2 separate regions of the Homo sapiens genome follow, and region 1 is linked to region 2. The links come from fine-mapping of genetic effects on gene expression. A gene starts in region 2. The other region holds a variant in brackets. All regions are shown on one strand. Distances are between the middles of the regions.

What was found. PIP is the estimated chance that this variant, and not a neighbour inherited with it, causes the effect.
Region 1: its variant is fine-mapped to the expression of CNIH1 in substantia nigra (GTEx, PIP 0.97).

Annotation. Positions count from the first base shown.
Region 1 is chr14:54,336,101-54,352,215 of GRCh38, forward strand. No RefSeq gene overlaps it. Among named protein-coding and RNA genes, the nearest start is that of CDKN3, 53 kb to the right of the region's middle. RefSeq lists an enhancer at 3,617-4,138. The variant G/A (reference allele first, on the strand shown) is at 6,911.
Region 2 is chr14:54,434,006-54,450,120 of GRCh38, forward strand. It overlaps CNIH1 (cornichon family member 1), which reads right to left and starts at 7,369. Exons shown (of 5, transcript NM_005776.3): 1 at 7,242-7,369; 2 at 2,364-2,432. The coding sequence starts at 7,322. RefSeq lists silencers at 6,843-6,892, 6,903-7,262, 7,303-7,572 and enhancers at 6,978-7,776, 7,653-7,712.

The DNA of each region.
Region 1 (16,115 bases), 98 kb before region 2:
GGTGAGCACAAATAAAACCGGGGAAGTCCGAACAAGATCAGTGGATTGTATTATTGTTAATACCCTGGTTATGATATTATACTATAGTTTTTTGCAAAATGCTACCACTGAGGGAAACTGGCAAAGATTATGTGGTATCTCTCTCAATATGATTTGGCTGTGTCCCCACACAAATCTCTAATCGTACTTCCCTTAATTCCCATGTTTCATGGGAGGGACCCCATGGGAGGTAATTGAATCATGACAGTAGGTCTTTCCTGTGCTGTTCTCGTGATAGTGAATACATCTCATGATATCTGATGGTTTTATAAAGGGGAGTCCCCTGCACAAATTCTCTTTGCCAGCCACCATGTAAGACATCTTTTTGTTCTTCCTTCATCTCCCACCATGATTGTGAGGCCTCCCTAGCCATGTGGAACCGTGAACCAATTAAACCTCTTTCCTTTATAAATTACCCAGTCTTGGGTATGTCTCTACTAGCAGCATGAAAATGGACTAATACATCTCTGTACTATTTCTTATAACTGCTTGTAAATCTAAAACTATCTCATTAAAACTTTAATTAAAAATATCTTAAGGCTGGGTGCAGGGACTCATGCCTGTAATCTCAGCACTTCAGGAGGCCAAGGCAGGAGGATCACTTGAGCCCAGGAGTTTGAGAACAGCCTGGGAAACATTTGAGATCATGTCTCCACAAAATATATTTTTTTTAAATATAACTGGGTGTGGTGGTGCATGCCTGTTGGCCCAACTACTTGGGAGGCTAAGGTGGAGGATCACTTGAGCCGTGATCGTGCCACTGCACTCCAGCCTGGGCGACAGTGAGACCCTGCCTTAAAAAAGAGAAAAATTAAAATTTTAAATTAAAAGTTATATGTGTGTGATATATTATTAAATTATATAGGCACAATGTGAGAGACTTCACTAGCATGGTACAATGTTAACATAAAAAGAAGAATGTCAGCTGTGATCCATCTATCTAGTCTTCTCAAAACTCCTAGCTCTGAGCTGGATTAGTCAAGGATAAAAGGACCTACCTTATAGGTCTTACCAACTATGTCTGAATACTGGTATTAATAGTAAGTCTGACTTTGATTTTTTAAGCAGCTTCTGAGGGACTATTCCTCATTCATGAACTTTGCTGGAGGGCAATGAGGAAGGTGAATTTAACTTTCAATCCATATTGATAGCCAGTATAATAGACAAAAGAATCCTCATTAACTAATTCACTACCTGGTACACTGCAGCTTTCAGTTTTTAAAATGACACTAAAACTAAGCCGCTGCAGGATATAAAGGCAACAATTGAACTAAAGTGACCTGCATCTAGAAATATGTTAATTACCTGATGCTGAAAACACGGAAGGGATTAGAGGGATTCCGAAGCGTTTGCTGAAACCTTGCATCGAGCCGAGTCCACGAGGGAGCTGAGCTCCTGACCACATTCTGACACCAGCAAAGGGCCGCTCTCTCTCTTACCCTTAGGCTCTTCAGGATCTAAAGCACTTTTGATAAAGATTGTTCCTATGATCAAGGCATTGATTATGCCTGTGTCTTTCAGCACAGGTAGAAATGTATTTCAGATAAGACAATTCCGCGTTTGAAAAGTGATCCACAGTCTTTCAGGTGAAAGACATCTCTGCAGAAACACTCTTTAGATTAAAGCCCCCTAAGAAGCAGAAAAGCTTTTAACATAGGGAGCCCCTTATTCACCATAAGTCCATGAAAAATGATGCTGTGCTGACCCTTTATTGACAAAACCAAAATGAGGTAAGCTTGTCTATGAACTGAAGGAAGAAAGATGGGACCAAAAAATGCTGTGAATAAAAGCCTATAATTCCAGCCTTCCCACCACAGCCTGTGTCACGAAGGTCCTTTGTTCATACGTAGTGTATACAAAGAAGAGGGAAAGCACAGTTTAAAACCAGAAGTTGATTAATTGGCTTTGGGAGCTTCACTCAACCTGAACTTGTTTCCTGAGCATCAAAATAGAAATCATGATTCCTCCCTTACCAAATTCACAGACTGTTAGGAGAATTCAATGAGAAAATATATTCAAAGGCTTTAAATTTTGAATCCACTGTACAAAGATAAAGGTTACTATTAATAGTCTAAAGGGGAGACGTATATTATTAAAAAATCAAGAGAGTACTCCCTAATTTGCATCCTGAAGTGTGCTTCTAAATCAAAACCCTACCTGAAGATTTGTTGATAAGGAGAAAAAAATGCAGGAAGAATATGTGTTTAATTGTTAAATCAGTTTTCTTTGAGAAAACTCATGATTTACCTAGAATTCTACTGAGTATGGTAGGTGATAGGAGAAAAAAAAAACTAGGATAATCATGAAATAATTTTGTCTAATGAGAGTCAATAGTCAAAGTGAGATTTCTGAAAGAATACCTCTATAATTCGTTGATCAACTGGTCAGTTTTCGTGTGACTGTATGGAAACCCCGCCATTGTTTGTTTGGTTGTTCTGTTGTGTTGTGTTGTGTTTGCATTATGCTGTTAGGTTTCGAGGACTGATGGTCCCATTTCACAAGTGAGAAAGGTGGAGACCAAAGGGAATCAAGGCTCACCAGCTTAGTACATACAGGCTGATTTCACATAATTAAAGTCAACACTCCTGCTTAAAGGAAACACCCGACAAGCAAGGTGCATCCATGAGCAGCCCGTGATCTTTGCCAGATTCTGAAAAGAGGCATATAGAAAAGCGCTTCTTTAGCTCAATAGGATTCCTTGCAAATTCAGGACAAACCTTCAGATCTGCCCAATGTCTTGGATGCACACGGTGGCTAAGCAACACTGCCTTCCAGTGGCAACAACATGTCTTAAGAAATCAAAAACCAGAGTAGGTTATGGTATTTCACCTTGGTAGTGCCTGTTTGTCCTTAAGGTCAAGGAAACACCGAAAGAGTATTTTCAAACCTTCAGTGTAGGCACTAATTTTAAATTTACATATTAATAATCTTTCTTAGCACTTGTTGAAAATGTTCAGAGCACCTTCCTCCCTTTAGTAGATGGTAATCCCACTCAGAGCAATTACGTTATTCAAATAACATCACAGCATAACTCTGTGGACTAAATTGAGTGCAGTAATACTGTATTTCATCATCAAAAGCATCACCAGTAGCCAGTGGTTCTGGATATAACAAAATCAAGCTGATGTCTGGCAAAGTGGTTGTTCAAAGATGTTTATGAACTTAAAGAATGTCCAATTTTTTCCTCACTAAAATCAGTCTACTCATTCCTTTCTCATATTTCTCTTAAATTCTCCAAAACACAGAATTGAAGATATTCAGTCCAGGCACAGCAGCTCACACCCATAATCCCAGCACTTTGGGAGGCCGAGACAGGAGGGTCACTTGAGGCCAGAGTTCAAAACCAGCCTAAGAAACTCTGTCTCTGCAAAAAAAATAATAATAATAATGATAAATAGCCAGTCATGGTGGCATGCACCTGTAGTCCCAGCAACTTGGGAGACTGAGGCAGGAGGATTACTGGAGCCCAGGAGTTTGAGGCTGTAGTGAGCTATGATCACACCACTGCACTGCAGCCTGGGTGACAGAGCAAGATCAAAAAAAAAAAAAAAAAGATAATCTGAGAAAGATTTATTGTGTGGCACTTTTTTAGTCCATGCTAACTAGGAAATGTCATTTCCACTTTGTCTCTTAGCCCAAAAATATCTTCTCTAATTATCCCCCACCCTGAATCCTCCATTCCCGCTGGCCTGTCTGAAACTTCACAGTGAGTTGATGGAATTTGTCCTCGTCTTGTTATCTATGACTTAACTGTCACCTTCCCTGTCTGTCTCATGGCAGGGCTTCTGTGTTTTGGGATCCACATCTTAAGTGCTACCATTATTTAGCTCAGCTCTTCCTGAGCTGCTGTTGCTACATAGATAGCTCCAGAATTTACATTTCTAAGGGGTCTGAGCTAGTTATACCAAAAGGCCTGCCCAGTTGGGGGTAGTCAGAAGAGTGATGCCAACACTGGAAAGATCTCCCATATCTGAGGGTATCACAGCACTCCTTGAAAGTTTTCTCACTGATAATCCCAACATCCTTGAGAAGAACTGAATAGCCTCATCTAGCAACTGGAGGGGGAAACTGAGACATACAGAAGTTTCATAAGTGTCTCAACAGGGGATTGGTCAAAATGCAATAAATCATTTTGCAGCATAAAATGCAACCATTAAAATAATGATTCGGATAAATATTTATTGAGGTAGAAAGATGGCTACAATACCATTAAAGAGACAAAAAAAAAACAGGTCACCAGACTTAATGCACCACGTGATTGTCTAGTAAATGTGTGTGTTTGCACACACTCATGCACAGAAGCACCACTGATCTAAAGCTACCCACATACAATCCCTATTAGTCCTACCAATAGCCATTCAGTTATTCTCAAACAGAAAACAAACAAACAAACAAACAAAAAACCCTAAGTAAACTGAGTTATTGGGTTTTTTTAAATAAAAAAAGCTTTGAAAACAAGTTCTCTAGCCCTAGTGGTGTGCTGGTAAATGTTTCACAACTAGTTCGCTAGGGAAAAAAGCTCTGATTTGTAGCTTCTGCCAACTTCTATACTGTAAACACCCTCAACAGGATTAATTTCAAACTCCCAAATTGATGTTACCAAACATAGTGTTGGGAAGAGATGCTCACAATAGGCTCAACTACCCTTGAATGTGGGCCAGCTTCAGTGACCCACTGCCTTGCTCCCACATTCAAACAAAGCATAATGTTGTAGGCCCCTCTTACATAAAATATACCACAGAATACTGTATATGTTTTAGGTGGCTTTTCTTTTTTATTGTCAATCTGTATTTTCTACCTCTTCAAAAAAGACTGTATGTTTTCTGTTTACTTAAATTTAAAAAGAAACTGTTTCTTTTATTACCTTGAGGTGGAGAAGGTCATTGTAACTATGACACAAAACCCAGAAGCCATAGATAAATTCGATAAATTCAACTACATAAAACTAAAGCCTTTTACATGGTGAAAAAGCCTTTAAAAGCAAAGTGAAAACAAATGACAAACTGCAAAAAAAAAAAAAAAAAGTGCAACCTGTTTTTCAGAAACACCATCTACTCTCACCAACATATAATCACTTTGCAACTGACAACCTGATAGACAAATAAGCAAGTATTTGAATAGACATTCAAAAAGAAAGCAAAAAAGAGATGATTCTTAAAGAATAGGTCCCCCATTCCCATAAAAGGAAAAATGCTATGTAAAATTTACATGGAGATGCCATTTGTTTAACCTCTCAGATTGGTAAAGATTCAGAAATTTTGAATGCACATTCTGCGAGTTAGGGCTGTGTTGGGAGTTTAAATTGGGACAAACTCCATGGAGAGTGTGGCCATCTGAATAATGACCCCACAAAGATGTCCACATGCTACTCCCTGTAACCTGTGACTATATTACCTTACATGGCAAAAGGAACTTTGCATAAGTGATTAAAGTTGCAGATCTAAAAATGGAGAGTGTGTCCTGGATTATCCAGGTGAGCCCAATATCATCATAATGCTCTTTACAAAAGTGGGGCAGGAGTGTCAGAGCCAGCAGAGCTGTGATAACAGAAGCAGTGGCCAGAGAAAGAGAGATTTGCAGATGCCACACAGCCAGCCTTAAAGATGGAGGAAGAGATCGCAAGCCAAGGAATGCAGGTAGCTTCAAGAATCTGGAAAAGGCAAGGAAATGGATTCTCCCCTAGAGCCTCCAGAAGGAGCACAGCCCTGCCACATCTTGGTTTGAGGACTTTAGGCCTCCAGAATTGTAAGATAATAATTTTGTGCTGTTTAAAACCACTGCATTTGTGGTAATTTGTTGTAGCAGCTATGGGAAACTAACATGGAGAACAACTTGGCAAACTACAAATGTATGCATGTACTCTGGCCCAACAGCTCCGTATCTAGGAATTTAACCTAAGGCATTCACATAAATACAAATAATGCATGTACTGCATTGCTGTGTGTAACAGCAAACAATTGGAATCCACATAAATGTTCATCAAAAGGAAGCTGATTAAATGATGGGGCTGGGCACAGTGGCCCATACCTATAATCCCAGCACTTTGGGAGGCCAAGGTGGGCAGATTGCTTGAGCCCAGGAGTTCAAGACCAGCCTGGCCAACATAGCAAAACCTCACCTCTACAAAAAATACAAAAATTAGCCAGGGGTGGTGGCACATGCCAGTAGTCCCCGCTACTGGGGAGGCTGAGGTGGGAGGATTACCTGAGCCTAGAAAGTCGAGGCTACAGTGAGCTGAGATCACGCCACTGCATTCCAGCCTGGGTGATAGAGCCAGACCCTGTCTCAAATAAATAAATAAATAATGATATGACCACACAATGCAGCCATTAAAAAAATAATAAGTTTTTTATGCTGTGGTATGAGAAGATCTCCAAGATATTGGAGGTGAAGAAAAGAAGACGCTTTTACTGCAATGAGCACAGTGGGTCCAATATGCTGACAGCTGTGTAGAAATCGGGAAGAGGGAGGATATATACTTATTTGTGTATCTATGCATAAATATCTCTAGAAGGAAAAATAAGAAACTAATAGTATGTGTTGCCTACAAGAGAAGGAACTGGATGGCTGAACAAGAAAAGGGAAAGGGAGACTTCTTACTGTATACCTTTCATGTTTTATTGAAATCTCTGTAAGTAATATGAATAGATTACCCATTCAAAAATGTAAATAAAAACAAAAAGATTACAAACTAAACAAGAAAGAGATTATGTAACTTGGCCACCCACCCAGCCAGTAAAGACACCATGATCACCAGTGGGCCTTTACAGAACCTTTCATTGTTTTTGAGGTTGGCTGTGCCATGAATTCCAATCATCTAGAACCACAGGAGTGAATGCAGGGTGTGGCCTAAGGAGCAGGGTGAGAGCGC[G/A]ATGTGGTAGTCTGATGGGATGTGGATGAAGGTCTGTGGTTAGCTAAAGCAGAGTTAACCTTACATTGTCTCTAAGTCAGGGCAGGAATTCTTCCTAAGTCCCTTCCGAGACCCTGTCCAGCCACAGAAACTCTATGAGCTGGGTTGCCAGATTCAAAAATGAAACTACAGGATGACCAGTTACATTTGAATTCCAGATAAACAAAAATAATTTGAAAGCATTTGCTGTTTATCTGAAATTCAAATATAACTGGGCATCCTGTATTTTATTCAGCACCTCTACGTGTAAGGAGCCCCATGGCCTGGGGAGAGAGGCAGTGCAGCACACGAAGGCCAGCATGCAAGGCCAATGGGTCACAGCCTCCATGTCACAGCTACCGAAACTGTCCCTTACAGAGACTCTGAACACGTCCTTCTGACAGGTAGGAATAGAGAGAGGAGGGCTGCGTGGTAAAGTCACCGGCCGACAACAAAGTTACAGGGCTCCAAGTTAAAGTCAGTCTCTCAGCTCATTTCTGGCCCTGGAGCTTCTCCTGAAGGTGCTGTACGGAATGCTCTAGAAGAAGTTTGGAATGGGGGTGGGGCATGTCAGGCAACCCAGAGAAATGTTCTCCCAGCCCAGGTAATAAACGTACCCCTTTCCCCAAAGTACCGTTAAAGATGTTTAAAAAAAAATCTTAAAGAAAAAAAAAAAAAACCCTTTAAGCTGACCTCCTGCCAAAGTACACATCAATTATACAGCTTCAGTCAGGCGGATGCTCGAGGAAAGGGGATCATGTTACACCCAGCTGGGCACTTTGTAGTTAGCACAAATGTAATATAAAGCGCAGCAGAGTTCATCAAGTGTCTGTCTGGATTTTCAGTTTTCATTAGTGCTATAATTAAAACCACATTTTCAGCTCTATTACCTGTAACAAGAAAGGAATGAGAAATGAGCTTGTCAAGGTCAGGCTTTTCCAGCTATTTATACTGAGGATCTGCAGGCCACAAGTTGTTGCATTTGGTGTAAACCAGAGCGACCGGCCAAATGTCGCACTCCAATCCATCCTGTGTGGCTTGAAAGGCACGCTCATGAGGTCATTTCCTTTGAGTGGCCACTGGGTCGCAGATGTCCACACGGCACCAAGGACCGGGAAAGATGGGTGATCAGGTAAATCCACCCTGGGCCATGGAGGGGTTTTCTCTCCCATTATGATCAAATTGGTTTCACCTCCTACAACAGCCCCCAAAGGCAGTTCTCAGACACTCGTGTTGAGGGCAGAAATCCTAAAGTCTAAAGACCATCCCCTTCCAACCTTGATGTGAGGTTGTGCAGGAGAGGGCTGGATGGGAAGGTACATTTTAAACCTCCCCTGTTCAACAACACACACACACACACACACACACACACACACACACACACACACACTTCACAGTCCTCACTCTAGGCCGCAGATCCTTTCAGCCTGAACTTCCAGGCAGATATAGAACCCAGCCACTTCTCCCCAACACGCTGGTCCCTGGTACCACCATCTCTCCCCTGGATTCCAGGAAGAGTCTCCCTGATTCTGCCCGGCTCTCCCCTCCACCCTCCCACACACACCCCACCGTCTGTCCCAGCAGAGCAGCCAGACCGTGTCACTCCTCCACACAAACCCCTCCACTGGCTTCCGGATCTCTCAGATTAGAAGCCAGGCCTCACAGTGGTGCTGGGGCCCCACTCCCTCTGGCCTCCTATTGGTCCTGGTCTTCTCTCACTGCACTTCCCCCCATGCTCCTCCTCCCCACTCTGTCCCAGGCCGTCTGGCCTCTGGGGTCCTCAGACACAGCAGCCACAGTCCTTCCTCAGAGGCTTTGCACTTGCTGTGCCGTCTGCCCGGAGTTCCCTTCCTCCTGTTATCCTCATGACTTGCTCTTCACTCAAAAGGCACCTTTTATACAGGGAGGCCTTCCCTGACCACCCTACATCACAGTACAAGCCACCAGCACCCCTAACCCCTACCCCCCTTAACCCCCACCCCACTGACCACGGCATTCCCCATTTCCTCTCTCACCTTTATTTTTCCTCATGGCACTTATCACTATCTGGTCTACAACATACTACTTTACTTCTTTATTTTCTTTAGATGTCTGTCTCTTCTCACTCCCAGAATGTAAATTTCTTGAGGACAGAGATTTTTGTCTGTTCACTGCTGTATCCCCACTACTTAGAAGAGCCCTGGCATGTAATAAACAGTCAGCAGGTATTTGTTGAATGGATGAATACAATCCAGAGACGGCTCAAGCTAGCACCAAGTGGGCCTTCTGTGGGTGAATAATCACTTACTCCCTGAGATCCACCCAGTGAGAAAGTGCAAAGACCATCTGCTCTTCTACCCACCAACCCAAAGGTGGGTCTCTGACAAGTGCTTGGTCTCCGGGCAAACTCAAGATGGCTGAGACACATCTTTCTCCACCAGAACCACCCTTGGAGAGCCGACTGGTCATCCCTTACAGTAGATGAGATCCAGACTCCCCTCACCTTGTAGGAGGTAGAATGCCCTCCCAACAACACTGCCCTCCTTGCCTTCCAGCCTAGATCCTAGGTGAACTGGACCTGAGCACTGAGTACCTCACCTTGATGGTTATATCAACTTGGCTGGGCCACAGAGCCCAGATATGTGGTCAAACATTATTCTGGATGTTTCTGTGAAAGTGGTTTTGGATGAGATTTACATTAAATGAGTGGACTTTGAGTAAAGCAGAATGCCCTCCATAATATGGGTGGGCCTCATTCAATCAGCTGAAGGCCTAAATGGAACAAAAGACTGACCTTTCCTGAGCAAGTATAAATCCTGCAGCAGACAGCCTTCAGACTTGAACCACAGCACTGGCTCTTCCCAGGTTATCTAGCCTACTGGTCCACCCTGTAAATTTGGGACTTCCAGCTTCTGTAATCACATAAGCCAATTCTTCAAAAATCAATCTCTTTAAATATATATACACATATATATACACACATATATATACATATATATGAATATATATACATATATACACATATATACATATATACACACACATATACATATATACACATATATACATATATACACATATATATACATATATATACACATATATATATATACATATATATACACATATATATATAAAACATATCATGTATTAGTTATATTTCTCCAGAGAACTCTGACTAATACACATGGCTAAGCTGTTGAGATGTAGTTCTCCTGGGAGTCAACCCTCCTGCAGGAAACCAAGTTCTTCCAAGGGCCATCTGCTCTGGAAGCATGAGCTTCCATCTCATGCCTCTTCCTTTCATCCATGCGCAAAGACTTATACAGCCCCCTGGCATTCCCAGGACACCTTGCTGGTCACTTCCCAAACTAAAGGGCAGAAAAGAATCCCATATAACAAAAACTGTTGCTCAGCTGCTATACTAGGAACTCAAGGAAACATTTCTTTGTCTATGATGTCATCGTAAACAATCTTACCAGGAGCAATAATATTCATATGCCGCATGCAAACATCACACCGTCACTTCGTGCTAACACTTGACTGAAGTCTGAGAGGCTGAAGAAAGAGCAGAATAGTTAAGAGCATGAGCCCTGGAGGTCTAACTGCTGGGACTCCAGTCTCCACTCTGCCACAAACTAGCTGAGTAAAATGTGCCAATTCCCTTAACCTCAATTCTCTCATCTTTAAAATGGGATGCAATAATTATACCTATTTCACAGGACTGTAATAAAACCAAGTGGAAAAAATACAAGTGAAGCACATATCCCTGTGCCTGACATACGGCCCATGCTCTGTAAAGGTTACTGGTATTTATTGCTGCAGCAAGAAGCCCAGGCCTTAAAGAGTCTTCTACAAATGCACGCAGTACTCTGAAGAAGGTGATTAAATCAGTTATGACTCTGTGGGTTGCAAGTGAAAAGCAGAAAATCCTTCAAAAGATATAGAGCCCTCAAGAACTCTTGGAGGGCATGCTACCACAGACGAGTCTCTTCCACAGTAGCCCCAGAAGTGGTTGCACCACCACATAGATTGGATCCTATGGTGAAAGGCTGGGCTCACTTTAAGGCTGGGCAGACTGAATTGTGAAGAAACTCTGCGACTTATTCATAGATTGTGAGAATAAATGGTAAACAAGTAAATGAGCAAATACATCCATGCCAGGAAGGAAACAAACAGGGTGCTTTAACATTTAAAAAGAAGTGGGTGTGTCATACCCAGCACAGGCAATTCCATACAGACAAGACGGTAGATGAGTGGATGCCAGAGGCTGGGAGGAATGCGAGGTGGGCCGTGACTTCTTCATGGTATGAGGTTTCTTTTGGGGACAATGGAAATGTTCTGAAGTTAGATAGTGGTGATGGCCGTATAATATTGTGAATATACCGAAAACCATTGAATCGTACACTTTTAAATGGTGAATGTGGTGTTTTGTGAAATCTTATGTGAATTATATCACAATTAAATTTTTAATTAAAAAAGAAAAGCTGGCTGGGGCCGGGCCTATTTTAGATGAGGTAGTCAAAAAAGTTCCCTCCAAGGGGTTTCTATGACCAGAGGACTGAGAAATGGGAAGGAGCCAGCCTTTGGAAGATGCACGGAAGAGCTCACTGTGCAGATGGAAGAGCAAATGCAGATGCCACAGAGTGTGCCCCGCTTGGCAAGGTCCATGTGCTGTCCCAGATTCGGCCCCTGGGAAGGAAGAGAGAAAGAGAGCTTGAAGTGTAGGAAGAAGCTATATCCTAGAAGGCCTTGGTAGGGCACAGTAAGAAGTGGGGAGTTCATGCTAAATGAAATTGAAACCCACAGAAGGCTTTTCCGCAAAGGAGTGCCCACCCCACTTGCCATTTTTGGAAGATCGCTCCCAGCTCCCAGCACGCAAAGCACCCATTACCAAGTGGCAGGACCAACACAAGGTATGAGACATTGATGAGATTCATTCTCATTAGTTGGAAGCTTCTGCACTTTCAACAAAACTGTAACCAGGGGCTACGAATTAGATGATGAGCTTATTCTTAAGAAGACATGTTATAAAAGGTAATATGAAACAATATGGATTTCTTGTCTATTCCAAAAGGCACCTTCTCTCTTTCCCCATAAAATACTTGGTAATAAAAGGATACTCTGTCACCTCCCAGCTTCCTGGAGTGACAATGGCAATGCTGTCATTATTAAGTCAAGAGCGCCCTCTACAGTTATGAGTCTAGATTACAGCTTACTATTAGCCTCGAACAATGTCTACTTTTGTGAAAAATTACCATCCCCTCAGCTCATGCCATCCATGATAAGCTAGTCCCACCAACTCTTTCCTGAAAACTGAAGGAAAATATTCAAAGGAAGTGACATTGGCAGCTTTCTTGGATGACTGAAATGTCAACACAAATGTGTCGGCTCTTTGGAGTAACAGTCTCCATAGGCCAAAAGGAGGATGGTCGGGTGTATGTGTGTGTGTACAATATACATCTATCTACTCACTGCTAATCAATATTTGATCTCATTATGTAACTGGAAAAAGAGAACATGTGTTTGATCACTTTGTGATTATCAAAATACTTGATATCAAGTCGGTGAAAAGTACTTCAAAAATGTAGAAGTTTATTATCTTGCCATAAAATAATAGAACAAAGAGGCAAGGGACTGGCTTCCATTGGCCCAGTGACAGCAGCAGGAGGCTAGGAGAAGCTCAACCAACAGCTGAGCAGTAGTATGGACGGGTTGAAAAAGCAATTGATATTTGGGAGGAAGGCTTTGACCAAAAAAGTGGGGAGATGGATGGAACCATGAAAATCGCATGAAAAAGTGCGAGAAGCTTTTTTAAAAATTCCCCAGGAGAGGGATTTTAAAAAGAATACCCAGAGAGAGGCGCCTGTGAGCAGCTGGAGAGGACAGGGAGGACTATTTGTCTAGGAAATTAGAGCTGTTAGGCAGAGCTGAACTGCCTAGAGAATGGGAAATCATAATTTGTGAAACGCTTTTATTGCACCCCGCCATGGTGGATTCCTTGTCCCAAATATTCTTACGCAAAATTTATTCGGGAAGGAGAAAGAAAGGGCATGCGAGTTCAGAACCTGTCTCACGCCTCTAAAACTTCCAGGCCACCTTCAGTACAAAGAATGGGGGGAATGTCCGGGCGAGCCACGGGAGGCGTTGGGGAGAGGGGAAAACGGATTCCTTCCTGCCGTTCTGCTTCCACTGATTAATACAGCCATTAAAAAATGAAATCTGTTCCTTAGACAAAATATGGTGAAACATTCCTGCGCGCTCCATCCTTGAAACAGATTTCAGTATTGGCCTGTCTTCTCAGTGTTTGTTTTGGTTCCTTCAGCCCACGCTGGAGTCCATGGGTTTTTTCCTTCACTCATCATCTCGCCTCCTGCTGCTTCAGCCGAGAATGAAGTAATAATTCAGCAAGCTGTTCAGGACTTCCCATCAGCCCAACTGCACCGCGCCGTGTTTTGAGGGCTCAGGCATCCTTGAACTCCACGGCAGAGCAAGCCGCGGGAAGGAACTCACTCATGTTGGCTCCCTTGCCTCAATTAAGGCAGTTTAGGAAGCAAAGTGAGAGAAGCACTTTAAAAAGCACAAGAATATCTCCTCGTGGGTCCTCACTTGCATGTTCTTACGAAGCCGGATTGTTCGTAGCCTACTCTGCAATTTCAGAGTGGTGAGTGGCTCCAAAGCAGCTTACAAGGAAACATAACTGTCACAGAGGCTAAGAGATTGCTTAAAAATAAATTACTGATTCTCTTTTCCTGAGAGCAACCTGCTGTGACCTTTGGAAGGCTTCTTTTGGGTCTTCAATTTTGCATCTGCCTGAGCTAAAAGGGATTGCCAGAGTCCCACTGTTTGGTTTATGACCCAGCTCATCCCTGTCCCTTGGAGGACGTGAGGACATGAGCCTGGCATTAGTGCACACTGTAAATGTGTTTGTGCCCAGAACTCTCTAGAATAGAAAGGTTTCCAAGTACTTCACTATAATGACTTAGTCACAAATGAATTTTAATATGCTAGAAGAACATGAGTATTTTGGATGAAAAGCCAATCTTTTCGTCCCCCCTTTTAAAATAGAAAGAAGCATAGCATCTGAGCTCTGTGGAAGGGACCATCCAAAACTAATGAAATACCATCTTAACGTAAGCACCTAAAGCAAGCATGTGTGCGCCATGGGGGCCTCAGTCCTGGTGGTTTCCTGGAGAAGATTTCACATGAGAGAGAAAAAGCTTCTCTGTTCCCTGATGCAGTGTGGATATTTTTAAATGGACTTTATGCGTTTTTTGTTTATTTGGTTTGGTGCTGAAAAATTAGACAAGGCACTCAGCTCTCTTCACATGACTAAAGTTTGAACTTGTGCATAATGAGTGCAAAATAGTGTCTGAAAATAGCAAAGAACAGAAGAGTAAGATGATCAGCGGGAAGGGAGGCAGCACGTCATAGGGAAGGCAGCCAGTACTCTGAAAAGCAATCCAACAAATAATTAACTGGTTGAAAGCCAAGAGGACAGTATGATAACAGACACTGATAGACACTAATTATAAGTGCAGTACTGTGAAACATGAAGAAATGATATGGTTAACAATCCTAAAAATGTTACAATGGGCAATGTAAGATGAGCAAGGAAGCTACAAGGAACACTCTATCGTGTTATATTTTGGCTGCTAATTTCTAGCAATAACACATTTATAATGATATGCTATTAACAAATTGACCAATACATCTTTTTTTTTTTTTTTTTTTTTTGGAGACAGGGTCTCGCTCTGTCGTCCAGGCTGGAGTGCAGTGGCACAATTTTGGCTCACTGCAAGCTCCGCCTCCCGGGTTCACGCCATTCTCCTGCCTCAGCCTCCCGTGTAGCTGGGACTACAGGTGCCTGCCACCACGCCCAGCTAAATTTTTGTATTTTCAGTAGAGACACCGTTTCACCGTGTTAGCCAGGATGGTCTTGATCTCCTGACCCCGTGATCCACCCACCTTGGCCTCCCAAAGTGCTAGGATTACAGGCGTGAGCCACTGTGCCCGGCCGACCAATACATCTTTTGAACCACTGAAAAGGTTGGCTGAACAGAAAAGTATTTTTGCATGTAATATATATGGAAAGGAAAGAGAGAGTGTCAGATTATAGGAAGAGTTACACTGAGTCAAGCCCATCAAGGTACAAGGTTGAAGGTAAGATCCCAGGTGAAAGCCAGGCACGGTGGCTCATGCTTGTAATCCCAGCACTTTGGGAGGCTGAGACAGGATCACTTGAGCCCAGCAGTTCAAAACCAGCCTGGGCAACCTAGTGAGACCTTGTCTCTACAAAAACTAAACAAAATTAGCCAGCAATGGTAGCTCTCACCTGTGGTCCTAGCTACTCAGGAGGCTGAAGTGGGAGGATCACTTCAGCCGGGCAGGTCAAGGCTGCAGTGAGCTGTGATCATGTCACTGTACTCTGTCTCAAAAAAAAAAAATAAAAGTGTTCCTACTTCTCCACATCCTCTCCAGCACCTGTTGTTTCCTGACTTTTTAATGATTGCCATTCTAACTGGTGTGAGATGGTATCTCATTGTGGTTTTGATTTGCATTTCTCTGATGGCCAGTGATGATGAGCATTTTTTCATGTGTTTTTTGGCTGCATAACTGTCTTCTTTTGAGAAGTGTCTGTTCATGTCCTTTGCCCACTTTTTGATGGGGTTTGTTTTTTTCTTGTAAATTTGTTTGAGTTCATTGTAGATTCTGGATATTAGCCCTTTGTCAGATGAGTAGGTTGCAAAAATTTTCTCCCATTTTGTGGGTTGCCTGTTCACTCTGATGGTAGTTTCTTTTGCTGTGCAGAAGCTCTTTAGTTCAATTAGATCCCATTTGTCAATTTTGGCTTTTGTTGCCATTGCTTTTGGTGTTTTAGACATGAAGTCCTTGCCTGTGCCTATGTCCTGAATGGTAATGCCTAGGTTTTCTTCTAGGGTTTTTATGATTTTAGGTCTAACGTTTAAGTCTTTAATCCATCTTGAATTGATTTTTGTATAAGGTGTAAGGAAGGGATACAGTTTCAGCTTTCTACATATGGCTAGCCAGCTTTCCTAGCACCATTTATTAAATAGGGAATCCTTTCCCCATTGCTTGTTTTTCTCAGCTTTGTCAAAGATCAGACAGTTGTAGACACGCGGCATTATTTCTGAGGGCTCTGTTCTGTCCCGTTGATCTATATCTCTGTTTTGGTACCAGTACCATG
Region 2 (16,115 bases):
ATTCAATTTAGGAACCAAGGTTCAAACAGAAACTAGTATCCAGAAAAAAAACCTCAAGCAAATATGGCTGAAATGATAACATTTAAACATGCAAAATATAATATTCTCTTGTTAAAGTTCACAATTTAAAAAATAGTGATATTTGTCTTCCCCCATACTTTGGCAGAACTGTCAAAACAAATTTAAATAGGGAAAACTGTCAGATGCACTGCTATTCAGCCAATTATTGGCACCCTATCCAAAAGGCAACCTGTGCTGCTATAAAAACGTCCTTCAACCTCCTGCAGCATTAGGATGTCCCAAGCACATGTCTCTTCTCAGTGAGAATTTCTTTCCGTTAAGAAAAGCCAGGAATCGCACATTACCTGTTAAAATGAAACCTGTCCCTCCTAAATTTACAATACATTAGGAAAATACAAGAACTTGAGCTTCAAAAATTAGGCTGTCTTGAGTTCAAGTTCTGACTCTATCTTAGCTGTATAACATTCGGCAAAGTGCTTTAACCTGGCAAAGCTTCAGTTTACTCTCCTATTCATGAGATAACAATTTACCTACCTCAGGATTGTCATGAGAATTAAATTTAAAAATTCAGGCAAAGTGCTTACCACAGAGCCTAGCACCCAGGAAAATCCTCATCTGATTTCAAATATTTTTACCTTCATCATCATTTGGTTATTGAAGTAATGAAAAGACAAACAGCACAGAATACTATTAATAAACAGCTATCAAAAGGGGAAATTTCAGTTTCTTCATTTCCTGGTAACAACTTCAACTACTTAGGTTAAGATGTTTTAAAATTAACACTTAATGCTTTCCAAGAGAAGGCAAATTCATCTTCTTATGTCTTGTTTCATAAGAGCAAAGAAACAGCTAATAAGTTAATACTTTTAATTGTACCTACATCAACTCTTACTGTAACAGTTCTCTAAAGACAAACTAGAAATCTCTTCCACCATCCACATTTATCTGGGAAACAATAATAAAGTACCAAACTAACTTTCTAGATGCTTTTCCAAATAAAATCCCTCTAGCACCTAGTGCTAGTACACTAGTATGCTAGACAATTAAAATCTACACAAACTCTCCCCTTCGTTAAGTAATTTTTAAAGCTGAATTACTGTATTTTATTTCTTGAAGACATACCCACTGCTTTCTTATAAACAACCAACCTTTCAATTACTGACCAGTCAGGCAAAATCAAATACACAGGCTAAAAGAGTATCTTCCTAAATGCAGGCAAAAATACAAAAAAACAAACTGGGTACCCTGGTGTGTGCCTGTAATCCCAGCTACCCAGGAGATTGAGGCAGGACGATCACTTGACCCAGGAGTTTGATAAGAGCCTGGGCAATATAGAGACACCCCCATCTCAAAAGAAAATTTAAAAATACATACATATATATTTTTTCAAAAACCCTAAGCACAATGGAGCTACATTATCACTAAATTCATGATGGCTCAGAACTCAGTGTAATTCAGGCCTGTTTTAGAAACAGAAAGTAGATACACACTAGAAATAACCACATAGACATTTGTATACAAATTGTTATCTACAAAATTATGGCACCCTAAGTCCAAAGAATGGCATTGCTGCGAGATCCCAGAGCCCCCAGAACAGAGCTATCCACCTAACAGGCTCTGAATAAACATCAGCTGAAAGAATGACTCATTTATTCCAGAATATGCAAACCAAAGATAAAACTAGATATGGCAGATAAGTCCATACTAAAGATTTCACTCACATACTACCTCACAATAAGTCACAACCCGAGAATCATCTCACCATCTATTAGTCATTTTATGTTAACCAACTTTCAAGTACTACACCAAATAATTTCACATAGAAGTGCCTATGGCTATAACATAAAAAAACGCATACGCATTTAACAGCTTTCCCTACTTGACTGGGCCAGCAAGCATATATTTGCATAAAATATGAAATTTCATGAAATCATAAACCTCAACAGGCATATGAACGAGCACACTGAACAAAACGTTACAAATACAAATGCCCTAACCCTCCCCATGAAATGAATATAGCATTAAAACATTTAACTAAAAAGCAGTACACACCTTTAATGCAATTTTGACTCTTTTAATCTTTTTGACCTTTTCAACTGTCTTTGGCCGACAATGTAAAAAGCAGATTGGAAGAATGTTAGTATGACAGCTGACAAGATCACCAGCAGATTAATAATAGAATAGTCAAGCACGACAGGAAAAAGAAGATTTTTTAAATTCTGCCTACTTCAAAAAGTACAAATATATTATGCTACTCAGAATACTGGCCATTTTCAAATTACTTCAAGTTAAAAACAAACATATTTTTAAAATCTAAAGATAAATCCTATATTATAACTTACGGGATTCAGGGTATTACACTGGTCTATAGGATTCTTGTAATCAGTCTTCAGCTCATCAAATGCTATAATCTAAAATAAAATTAAAACAGTTAGGACCACTCACTTTAATTAAAAGCAGCAACAAACCTGCCCCATCTTCAAATAATTATTAAAGTTAATAAAACAAGAACAAAAGTACACCAAGATCCCAAATACCAATTTACAGTAAACTCATATATGACAAAAAGAACCAGAATGCGATTTAAAGTGAAAACACTCTTATCTCAGTATCACTAAAATTTGGTATTACTGTAATAAATACCTTCAATTTTCAATTTCGTCAATGCCTCTGCTCAAGTTATTTCAACTTATCTCTACTCGAAATAATCTTCTGAGTAGAAAAATAATTTCAACTGTTTATCCAAATTCCTCTTTATCCTAAAAAAAAAACAAACCTTCCTAGGTCAACTTCTTTCTGCAGGCTTTCCTAACTCCTTTGGGCAGAAGTAATTGCCCACATCTCCACACAGCATGGGACTCTATAATGCCATCGATATGGCTTTTCTCACCCTGGAGTGTGGTATTTACACACAGGTCTGTCTGCCCCTCTACACTCTCAGGGAGAAGGACCATTTTTATTTATCTGTGCATGCTCCTCCTCCCTTGGCACAGTGCTCAGTGGGACACTAGAGATGGATTCGAACTCTTCAATGTGTTCCCATTGGTGCCCAAACACATACATTTGTAAGGATGCTTTTGTCCACACTCTGGAGGAATGTGGCTTCAACCTCAAGGGTCACTAGAATGTACATTAAGAGTCAAAATAGGGACTCTGCACCACTTTGTGGCATCATTTCAGGTGACAAAGAAAGAAAACAAAGGCAGCAAGTTGATGGGGGAGCCATTTTAGTTGCTAACACTACTCACCCCAGGGACACACAAACTAAGCTACCCTTCCCTTAATGAGTTAGGAATAGTATCTTTATATGTGAAAGTGTTGCTCAATATTATCAGTAATCAGTAAAGTTACATATTTCCATCTTTTAACATGACTGTTTATTTCCCTGTTAAAATTTAGATTCATAAAAAGACGGTTTTTTTAATTTCTAGAGTTCCATAAAATTCACCCACCTGCCCTAATAAAAACTCCAACCAAACAACAATAGAAGGAAAATAATAAAACATTAGAATGTAATCTCTGAAAGAACAAAGATTGTTGTATTTACTATTATGTCCCAGGGCCTAAAATATAAAATAGTGCCTGGCACATAGTTAAGTGTTCAATAAATATTAACTGGAAGGAGGGGGTGAAAAAAATAGCACTAGGGATTAAAAAAAAAAAATGCAGAACTCACCAGGGGGATTTCCCTTGGCTAATGACACCTAACACAAATGTTAAAAACATACATGTGTAATTAGAAAATACTAATTTCTGATTACTTATGGACGTTATTAGTCTGCTACTTGACGTCAGCCGTGGTATATAACCCCAATGCATTTTAGTAATAAAGCTCAAGACAAGGATGATAATCATAAGTACTTGTCTATAACAAGATCCAACTTAACAGAATACAAAACTTGTCTTTAAAACTGACATTTAATTGGACATTTTCTCCAGGTGACTTCAAGGGTTTTTTTTTTTTTTTTCTTGAGACAGGGTCTTACTCTGTCACCCAGGCTGGAGTGCAGTGGCACAATCTCGGCTCACTGCAACCTCCACCTCCTCGGCTCAAATGATTCTCCTGCCTCAGCCTCCGGAGTAGCTGGGACTACAGGTGCATGCCACCATGCCTGGCTAATTTTTGTAGTTTTTGTAGAGATGGGATTTTACCATGTTGCCCAGGCTGGTCTCAAACTCCTGAGCTCAGGTGATCCACCTGCCTTGGCCTCCCAAAGTGCTGGGATTACAGGAATGAGCCACTGTGCCTGGTCACAGGGATTTTTTAACTATGTTGTTGAATGGGTTTCTCTTTGAGTGCTATAGGCTAGGGTTTTCGAACCTCTTCTGAGAATATTCTTAATGATTTTCAAATCTTTTTGCAGCTATGTGGCTGAGCAAAGACACCCACAAAATTTCCTACAGAAGTATAACAAAAATAAAACAGATAAATCCCTAAAGATGCCCAAGTACACAATTCAGAATACCTTCCAATTTAATACACATCTTTAAGGAATGACTTTTAAGCTTTTAATTTTTCAAACAATCTATGCTCCCGACTCTATTCTCCACAGAGCATCAATGACATGAATTAGGACTAAATTGACAGATATAATCATCAGCATAAAAAACATTCTCTAATACAGTGATTAATGTAAATAAGATTTTTGGAATGTAATTTAAAAATTGTAAAATGAGTCTTCTGAAAGATACTTCAACTACCTGCTAGAGTTTGGTTTAACTCCTCCAAATCTCAGGTTGAAATCTGATCCCCAATGTTGGAGGCGGGATCTAACGGGAGGTGTTTGGGTCATGGGAGCAGATCCCTCATGAATGGTTTGGTGTCATCTTGGAGGGAATAAGTGAGTTCTCCTGCCATTAGGACCCAAGAGAACTGGCTTGTAAACAGCGCCTGGCACCTCCCCCTCTTTTTCCTTTGCTTTCTCTCACTATGGGATCTCCACACACTACTCCCCCACCATGAGTGGAAGCAGGCTGAGACTTTCACCAGATGCCCAGTCTTATAGTCAGCAGAATCCTGAGGTAAATAAACCTCTTTTTTCTTTGTAAATTACTCAGCCTCCCGTATTCCTGTATAGCAACACTATAAACACTATAAAGGAATGGACTAAGATACTACCTAAGATGATAAACATAAGGTTATATGGGTAATAGAAAAATTAAAACTATCTATTTATTTAGAATTGTTTCCAAAAGGATACTAATTCTCTGAATGAAGAAATCCCTAAGCATAAAAGCTCTCCACGAATCTGCGGTATAATTTTTTTTTCATTGTATAACACGACTTAAAATTATTTACTTCACCCAGACACGCATTTGTTTAAGCTGAAATTACCCATTTTTTGAAAGTGCGGTTCAGGTTTTCCTTAAGCCAAACACAACCTGGTTCAAAACGTAAAAATGTGAAAAAGCCTACCCCACCACTCTAAGAATCCCCATCATCCCAGAAAAAAGGAATACCCATCAAGCAGAATGACTTAAAGCTACATCTACAGATGGAATGGAACCACACACTTTCTTTCTTTCTTTTTTTTTGTTTTTTTTTTGAGACGGAGTCTCCGCCCAGGATGGAGTGCAGTGGCGCCATCGCGGCTCACTGCAACCTCTGCCTCCTGGGTTCAAGTGATTCTCCTCCGCCTCAGCCTCCCGAGTAGCTGGGATTACAGGCGCCCACCACCATGCCCGGCTAATTTTTTTGTATTTTTAGTAGAGACGGGGTTTCACCATGTTGGCCAGGCTGGTCTCGAACTCCTGACCTCGTGATCCTCCCGCCTCGGCCTCCCAAAGTGCTGGGATTACAGGAGTGAGCCACCGCGCCCGGCCATGGAACCACACATTTTCATCAGAGGCCTACTAAGGTTGAGCTAGTCTGTATCCCAAATTATCTTAGGTATTGTTCTTCCATCAAAGCAGGGCTGAAGATGCTCTTCAAATTACTGCTCCTACTGACAAGCATTCTGAGGTAGCAGTTATTTCCGACACAGTTAATAGCCTACATAAGTATTCCTGATTACAATAAGCAGTCAGGTCCTAAAATAATTGTAAACATAATCACACTGCTTAGCAAAAAGGAATGGATTTGTGATATGCTTCCACTTTCGAGACTTTTTTGCACAAGACGCTGCTGCTGTTTAATCATTCTGCCCCTCCGTATGTTTCATAGAAATCCTTGTTACTGGCATGATGAAACCTGACTTAAAATCTACGTAAGAGTGAACGCGGTCATTCAAATTAAAAGCAACATTCCAGAAGGCACTGGAATATGGGGAAAAGAGAAGCAAGTATGAGATAAATTTTTAATGAATGATTTCCAGAAGGCTCTCAAGGCTTTTAATTTTGTGCTAAAGCAACAGAAATTCTTATCTCTGTAGAACTATGTCACAGGGAACTTACGACTTTTTCCTTAGAGGGACCAGTAAGGCTGTGCTTCCACCCTGCAATAGTGATGATGATGTGTGTAACAGAAATAAATACTGCCCCAGAAAAGCTTAAGGTTTCTGAGCATCTCAAAATCAAATGAAAACTCCCTCTACTAAATCAAGCAATCCTGAATATAAGGGTGGCTTGGAAAGCTGCCTGTTGAAACTCCAGCGGTCAAAGTATGATTTGGGGGGGAAACGCGCACATGCAATCAACAAAGTAATCAATTGAACTTGCATCAAAGTTCACCAGGAAACAACAATCTGGAAAAAGAGAAAAAAAGTGATTTGATTTGAAGAGCACCGAACAAGTGCTGAAAAGTAGAGTTGGAAATTCACCCTAAGTAGGTTACATTTTGGCCACAGTTCTGTGGAAACCCTAAAAGAAAGTCAATCTGTATTAACAAAAATTCGGAAAACTTCATTCACACTACGGCCGTCCCACCGCGCTGTCGACATCCTCCCCGGGAATGCAGGGCCGCGGGCCGGCAGAGGTCGGTGCGAACGCAGCGCGGAACCGCGGGCGCCCGCCTGGACCGCGGCCGCCCCATCCAGTAGGGGAGGAGTAGCGGTGCGCGCGGCCTGTGCCGAGGCAACGCGGGCGCGTCCACCTGGCGACTGCGCGCCCCGGCTCCTCCAGTACCCGCGGCCCCCAGACCCCTCGCCGCGCGGCCCGTGCCAGCCGGGCCGCATCCCCGACGCGCAAAGCCCCGGCGGCCGTGGCGGCCCGGACCGCGGGCCCGGGGCGAAAAGAGGCTGTGTTGCCGCCTCGCCCTCCTTTCCCCAGCCCCAGCTACTCACGTGCCAAATGGCGAAGAAGATGAGCGCGGCAGTGAGCAGCAGCGCCAGCATGTAGCAGAAGGCCGCGAACGTGAACGCCATGGCTGGGGAGGAGGAGCGGGGAGCGGCGCCGTTGCCAGCGGAGAAAGGCGGCGCAGGGCCCTCTGGGTAAAACCATTCACTTCCCCCGGCCACAGCCGCGACCGCCACCGCTACCGCCGCGGCGCCAGCCCTCTCAGCGCGCCTGCGCACCAGCCCAGCCGCCCCGGCGCCCTCTGATGGCCGGAGTCTGCGTTGCACTGACATTGTCCGCACAGTTGTTGATTGATTTTTCCTTCCTTCTTGCGTTTATTCTTTCAACAAATATTTATTGAATGAATGCCTAGTTTGTTACAGGTACCGCGCTTCTCGCTTCAGATACAAAGATGAATAAGATAGTACCTGCACTGAAAGAACTTAGTATAGTGCCGGAAATGAACACCTAAATAAATAATTACGTTATTATAACCCCGTAAACGGATGTGTGTGGGATGCTCTGAAAGGTCAAAGAAGGACAGCCAGCCCGCCCTGGAGCATTTAGGCAGGATTCCTGCTGTAGGTGTTTCCTAAGTTGGCCTTAGATGATGATAAGTTCTCCAGGCAAAAAGAAGGTAGAACTGGCAGTCCAAGGAAACAGTTCAGAATGAGGAAACGCAACAGAGATGGAAAAAAGAAAAGAAAAATAAAGCTTCGTGTCTCAGGTGAAACCAGCAGCAATTCTGTATTAATGGAACCTAAGTGCAAGACAGTGGTGAGACTTAGAAATGAATTAGCAAGGGATCAGATCATAGAGGGCCTTATAATGCTTCATTACGGAGCTCAGACTTCTTATCCCATAAGCCCAAATTTTTTGCTCACCACACACAACTAGAAAGATTTTTTTCATTGCAACCCAGTGGAATATCATACAGACATCAAGTTATGAAGAGGTGGAAATCTAGTTATAGAGGCAAAGAAATATAGATATGACCAAAACAAAAATTTCACAAAACTGTACTAATGATCCATAAGTACTTTCCCTTCTCTCTTTTGCTACTTGTTTTTAATGCTGGTCTTAACACACAAAATTGATTCAAAATTGATTTAACTTTCCATTACAACCATTTTTAAAAGAAAAAAACTCTATTAACTGATTGCTGCTGATGGAAGAGAAAATCATTGAAGGCTTTTGAGCAAAAGAAGACCATGTTTAGATTTGCATTAAAGATCGTTCACCTAGCAAATTGCGTAGAATAGTTTAGAAGCAGGGTCTGTCCAGTGCTGTGCAATAGAACCTTCTGTGATGGTGAAAATTTTCGATACCTAAACATTGCCCAATACAGTAGCCACTAGCCACATGTGGCCATTGGGCACTTGTAAATTGTCTAGCATGACTGAGGAACTGAACTTTAAATTTCACATCACTTTAAGTAAAATGTGGCTAGTGTATTGGACAGTACAACCTGTACCACCAGGATTATGTGGCACCTGTGTGCAAATTATCAAGTTACTTTTGGCCAGGCACAGCAGCTCATGCCTGTAATCCTAACACTTTGGGAGGCCAAGACAGGAGGATCACTTGAGCTCAGGAATTCAAGACCAGCCTGGACAAGGTAATGAGATCTTGAGAGGTGACAGCGTGCTGGCAGTCCTCACAGCCCTCCCTCACTCTCGGCGCCTCCTCTGCCTGGGCTGCCACTTTGGCGGCACTTGAGGAGCCCTTCAGCCCACCGCTGCACTATGGGAGCCCCTTTCTGGGCTGGCCAAGGCCAGAGCCAGCTCCCTCAGCTTGCAGGGAGGTGTAGAGGAAGAGGCGCGAGGGGTAACCGGGACTGCGCAGGGTGCTTGCGGGCCAGCTGGAGTTCCGGGTTGGCGTGGGATTGGCGGGACCCTCACTCGGAGCAGCCGGCCGCCCCTGCCGGCCCCGGGTGATGAGGGGCTTAGCACCCGGGCCAGTGGCTGCAGAGGGTGTACTGGGTCCCCCAGCAGTGCCAGCCCACCGGCGCTGCACTCGATTTCTCACCGGGCCTTAGCTGCCTTCCCGCGGGGCAGGGCTCGGGACCTGCAGCCCGCCATGCCTGAGCCTCCCACCCCCTCCATGGGCTCCTGTGCAGCCCAAGCCTCCCCAGCGAGCGCCACCCCCTGCTCCATGGCGCCCAGTCCCATCGACCACCCAAGGGCTGAGGAGTGCGGGTGCACGGCGCGGGACTGGCAGGCAGCTCCACCTGCAGCCCCGGTGTGGGATATGCTGGGTGAAGCCAGCTGGGCTCCTGAGTCTCGGGGGGAAGTGGAGAACCTTTATGCCTAGCTCAGGGATTGTAAATATACCAATCAGCACTCTGTATCTAGCTCAAGGTTTGTAAACACACCAATCAGCACCCTGTGTCTAGCTCAGGGTTTGGGAATGCACCAATGTGCACTCTGTATCTAGCTTCTCTGGTGAGGCCTTGGAGAACCTTTATGTCTAGCTCGGGGATTGTAAATACACCAATCAGCACTCTGTATCTAGCTCAAGGTTTGTAAACACACCAATCAGCACCCTGTATCTAGCTCAGGGTTTGTGAGTGCACCAATGGACACTCTGTATCTAGCTACTCTGGTGGGGCCTTAGAGAACCTTTGTGTGGATGCTCTGTATCTAAGTAATCTGGTGGGGACATGGAAAACCTTTGTGTCTAGCTCAGGGATTGTAAACGCACCAATCAGCGCCCTGTCAAAACAGACCACTCGGCTCTACCAATCAGCAGGACATGGGTGGGGCCAGATAAGAGAATAAAAGCAGGCTGCCGGAGCCAGCGGGGACAACCCGCTGAAGTCCAGTTCCATGGTGTGGGAGATTTGTTTTTTCGCTCCTTGCAATAAATCTTGCTACTGCTCTCTCTTTGGTTCCACACTGATTTTATGAGCTGTCACACTCACCACAAAGGTCTGCAGCTTCATTCCTGAACCCAGCAAGACCACGAGCCCACAGGGAGAAACGAACAATTCCAGACGCACCGCCTTAACAGCTGTAACGCTGCGAAGGTCTGTAGCTTCACTTCTGAGCCAGCGAGACCACGAACCACCAGGAGGGAAAAAACTCCGAACGCTTCCGAACATCAGAAGGAACAAACGCCAGACGCGCCATCTTAAGAGCTGTAACACTCACCACGAGGGTCCGTGGCTTCATTCTTGAAGTCAGACCAAGAACCCACCAATTCCAGGCACAATCTCATCTCTATTTCTTTTTTAAAATAATAAAATCCAATAACATTTTTTGTAAAGTTACTTTCTGCAGATGGACAGAGGCCCACCCCAGAGTGTAGGAACACAAGCTATACTTCAGCCCCACCAACCCTGGTCGTGCACCTATGTGCAGTGCACAAACTGCCCAACTGTGCACAATGACCCTGATTAGAGGAGTGTTAGATTGGAAATCGGGTCCCACGGCAATGGTCCAAGCAAAAGTTGCTATGGATCTGAACTAGAGCAGTGGAAGGTGGGAAGGAAAGGGGTAAACATGCTTGATAGTAGTTGGGAGACAAGCTCAGCTGAACTTGATTAACTGGATGCCCTGGTGAAAGCGAAGAAGGAGGCAAATGATATTTAATTCAGTACTTAAGGCCACGGGCACGGCAGAACGCAGCATCAGGCAATATTTATGCAAGAGAACTCACAATCTAATGAAAGGCAGATGCAGCTTTCTGGGCTCGGGAGAGAGAGTTTGCAGGGAACTACTCAAGCCAAACCATGAAATCGAACCCCCTTTTTCCAGATGAATCCCATCTACAACTTGGGAAATGATGTTTCATCACCAGATACCAAGAAATCCTACCTTTTGGCAACAAGTTTTTCTCCGGCTTCACTTGAAATGTGTGTTTTCCTTCTCTGCTGACTAGGCTAGCACCTTATCTCATAGAATGAAACTGTCTCCCAGGCACCCACCCTTAATTAGAAGGGGCTACCCCTATTTCACCTGAGGAGAAAGGAAATTTGTAAGAGAAATTTTGCCTGCCTCAACCCCTACAGCGGTTACATAAAACCCAGGTTCCCCACCAACTTTCTTCAAGGGTAGCATTTTAGGTATTTCAACAAAGGTTTGTTGAGCACCTGTTCTATGCCAGGTGGAGTGCTGACTGATTCACACAGTTATATAAGCTGCAGTAGGATGAAGCCCCCTTCACATATTACCAGAGCACACAGGTAAACTTTAGGCTTGTGCTGTCTAATACAGGAGCCACTAATCATGTGACTATTTAAATTTAAATTAAGCTGGGCAAGGTAGAACACACCTGCAATTCCAACACTTCAGGAAGCTGAGGCACAAGGATTGCTTGAGGCCATGGGGTTGGAGGCTGCAGTGAGCCATGGTTGCGCCACTGCACCCCAGCCTGGGTGACAGAATGAAACCTTGTCTCCAAAAAAAATTTTTAATTAAAAAATAAAAACAAAATTTAAAATTCAGTTCCTCAGCTACGCTAGCCATATTTCCAGCGCTCATATTTCCAGTATTCAATAGCCTCATGTGGCCACTATATTAGACAGCATAGATATAGGATACCTCCAACATAGAAAGTTCTACTGGGCAGCAGTACTTTAGACAATATTAAGCAGCTATAATCTGTGAGAGAATACACCCTTTTGAAAGAGGATAAAGAGCTAGTTGGATCAACCAACCATAGACAAGGTAGTGAGGAAAATAATGAGTTTACTTGACATTTTGGAGGACCATTATAGACAGTGAGAAATCTATACTCTCTGTGTTCAAACAATTCCTAGTATTCTTTGGAATTTGCGTTAATTCTTTTAGCCCATGGGAGTACTTTTGCAGTAAATACTGAATTAAGTTCCTGCTTTGACTTGCATGTATGAATGGGGCTGGATAATATTTCAAAGAAGGATTAATTTATATGCTTGTTCTCTCTCTCTCCCTCCTTCTTTCCCCTCCTCCTTCCCTCAAATTCCTTTGTTCAAATTCTTTCCATCAATTTACCATCACTGCCCCCACTAGCCATGTTCCCAATCTGGACAGCTAGACACAAGTCAGCTGCTTGGAGCCCTGGAAAACAAAGCCCGCAAATACAAAGCATCTAGTCTAAGAAAAACTTCAGATACACAGAAAAAGTTCAGATACACATCTGAGAAATTTTCCAGCACCCTCCCCAACCCCCAACTAGATAAAGCTGGTATTGAGGAAGGGAAGGGGGAGGCGCTGAGCAGTTAGGAGAACGTGACCTCAAGAAACTTGCAAGGCTCTAAGGAAACAAGCACCACCTTGCCAAACTCCAGGGAGTTGCTTGGCAGCTCAGCTCGGGGTTTCTGCCAATTGACAGCAAGCCATACTTCACCACTGATCATCCAGGTGGGAGTGAGGCTTGGCACTCTGCCCAGCACTCCTCCAGTGCCAAGGGCAGGGCAGGTGGGGGCGTAGGATGCTCAGAGACATGGTGGTAACATAAAAGGGAAAGCTCTGCATTGGTGTAAATTTATCCTCAACCAACTAACTAGTGAGGACTCCCACAAAGGGAGAATAATAGGAGAACATCTCATCCCAGTTACAAATGCCATATGCAATCCACTATGCTTTCGGATGATCTGGGCCCTTGCCTTGAATAATGAGGCACTTCCAAGAGGAAAGAACCCTGGGCACAGAAGACTATAGGTCATCAGTCCCCAGTCTTCCAGAAGATGTTTGTGTAATTGGGGAAGAAGCAATTTCACCTGGTAATTAGTGGTGGTTGTGGGTGGGCTATGGATCTAGACATGTGACTCAGACATAAGACTTGGAAAGAATAGTTATGAAGCTGGGGAAAATGGGATGCGTAACCGAAAGTGTTGGTTGCTCCCAAACCCACTCCCACTTCTTTCTTGTTGGCAGAGCTCAGAGTTTGTTCAAGGCTTTATGCCCCCTATGCCACATACTCAGAAGAGAAGCCTTTCCCAGGATTCTCTTTTTTTTTTTTTTTTTTTTGAGAAAAGGTAGCTCTGCCCCTCCAGAACAATGTGTGATTCTCAGTTATTTTCTGTATGTGGCAGAGCTGACAATGTGTTCATGTTTTTTTCTGCTCACTATGTACCTTTCCAAAACCTTGGGTTACGGCAGCATGCAAGTAGAGAGCTTCAGGCTGCCCAGCAGGATGTAGTTTCTCAATATTGGTGGCTGTGTCATCCATTCTGCCCTTTGCACTGGGAGTGCCTGTTACACAACCATGATGAAGGGAGTTAATGTACAGAAATGACTTAACAATTTCATATGTGCAAAAAAAGTCACTTTGTTTTGTTTTGTTTTTGTTTTTGGAGACAGTCTCGCTCTATTCCCCAGGCTGGAGTGCAGTGGCACGATCTCTGCTCACTGCAACCTCCGCCTCCCACGTTCAAGCAATTCTCCCGCCTCAGCCTCCTGAGTAGCTGGGATTTCAGGCACCCGCCACCATGCCCGGTTAATTTATTTATTTATTTATTTACTGAGACGGAGTCTCACTCTGTCCCCCAGGCTGGAGTACAGTGGTGTGATCTTGGCTCACTGCAACCTCCGCCTCCCAGGTTCAAGCAATTCTCCTGCCTCGGCCTCCCGAGTAGCTGGGATTACAGGTGCATGGCATCAGGCCTGGCTAATTTTATTGTATTTTTAGTAGAGACAGGGTTTCACCATGCTGGCTAGGCTGGTCTTGAACTCCTGACCTCAGGTGATCCACCTGCCTCAGCCTCCTGAAGTGCTGGGATTACAGGCGTGAGCCACCACGCCAGGGCTATTGTTCTTAATTTGTATGTGTCTTTCATAAGCCGCATAGTTTAAAGATGGTGAAATGCACAGATCTTAAGTGTATAATTCAAGGAGTTTCAATACACATATACACCTACGTAACCTCCCTCCTAAAGACAGAGAACATTTCCATCACCCCACAAAGTTCTCTCATGACCTACCCCCTAGGCAACAATTGTTCTGCTTTCTAGTACCATGGATGAGTTTTACGGGTCCTTCAACTTCACTAAATGGAATCATATGATATGTATTCTTGGTGTCTGCTTTGTTTTGGCTCAGCATAATCTTTTGGGGTTTTCTCTTCAAAATTCATCCATATTGCTGCATGTATCAGCAGTTCATTCACTTTTTAAAAATCAACTTTATTAAGGTATAATTTACAGAAAATAATATTTACCCATTTTAAGGGCACAGTCAATGAGTGTATGGAAAATTATACACTCACCCACCCACAATCAAAATGTTCAACATTTACAATACCCAAAAAATTTCCACCATGGTGCTTCCTAACCCACAGCCAAGGCAACCACTCATCTGCTTTCTGGCATTATAGATTAGATTGGTCTTTTCTAGACCATCATATCATTGAAATTATATAGTATGTACTCTTGTCTGGCTTCTTTCATTCAGCATATTTCTGAAATTCACCCATCTTGTGTTTTCACAGGGTTTTTTTTCATTGCTCTGTAACATTCCACTGTATGAATATATCACAATTTGTTTATCTGTTCTCCTATTTATGGACATCTGGGCTATTTTTAATCTGGAGCTATTATAGACAAATCTGTAACATACATTCTTGTACATGTCTTTTTCTGAATATGTATTTTCTTTTCTCTTGGGCAGATACATAGGAGCGAAACTGCTGGGTTATGGCAAAGGTGCTATATTCTTTATTATGTTTAAGTAACTTTATTCCAACTCCATTTCCCTTTCCAGTGGATTAGTGAAAAATTCTGTCTCAGGCATTATTGGTGGTCTCCCTTCGGAGAGTCATACTAGTGTCCTGGAAATGTATGTGATCACTGTAGCAGAACGGACAGATATTAGAATCTTTGCCAAGGTTGGGAACTCCGGTACCTCCTGGCACCCCAGGGTTGTCCTCTCTATGATGCCACTGCCTCCCCACAGCCTACAGAACAGGGGACGGATCCTTACTGCCTGCAGGACTCACAGATCTCTCTCTCTGATCCCTTCCCAGTTTAGGAAATTAGCTGCTCCCTCCTCTCTCCTAGACCCCCAAAAGCCTTCACTCACCATCCTCCCACTCTGGGACACCTGGGAAATTCTCTTCAGTGCAATGAGGGCTTTCACAGGAGGCAAGAAGAGCTGTTGATCAGATGGCTTCTTCTTTCTGTCCTTCCTGCAAAAATTCCCAAGGCAAGGAAGCCTAAAGGGATTCATCACTGTCAAAGTGTGGAGGGAGAGAGGAACACAAGGGGAAAACACCAATAATTAGTTCAAGAAATGATTTAGCCACCTTTTAAGTACCAGGGAGTACTCAATCTTATTTTTGGTAGTTTTGCACATTTGATTTCCTGAAGTTGTAAACTGAATGTCCTCTTTGTTGAATGAAAGAAGTTTTGAAATCTTTGAAAGAAACTAAATGATTCTATGGGACATATTGCTCTCTAATTTCCTTTATTGAAGATTTTACCATTTGATGTGTGAGTGGGTTAGTCAGGCTCATTGGGATTGCAAGGAAAAGAGTCATGCCCAGGTTTTATCGTTCTACGGAGGTAGACCATAAGGACACACTCAGAAGTCGAGGAGCTTAGGAAGGGATTGCAGCCTTCGCAAATAGCCTTTTAAAAGACTCTGGAATGCCAGTGACCCAGAACCTGAGAGCCTCTGAGTGACTAGCATGTGTTGTCCCTCATTCCAGTGGCACATCCCTATGGTAACAACATTATCTCAGGCCCAGGGGCAGCTTTCAGGGGCCATAGAACTCAGAGAGTGTTGAACCCACATAGGAACCTAGACCCACCTTAGCAAACTTGACGTTACAGCATCATGCAGCAATTTCTGGGCTGTCTTAGTCCATTTGTGCTGCTACACTGAATAATTTATAAACAACAGAAATTTATTTCTCACAATTCTCGAAGCTGATAAGTCTAAGATTCAGGCACCAGCAGG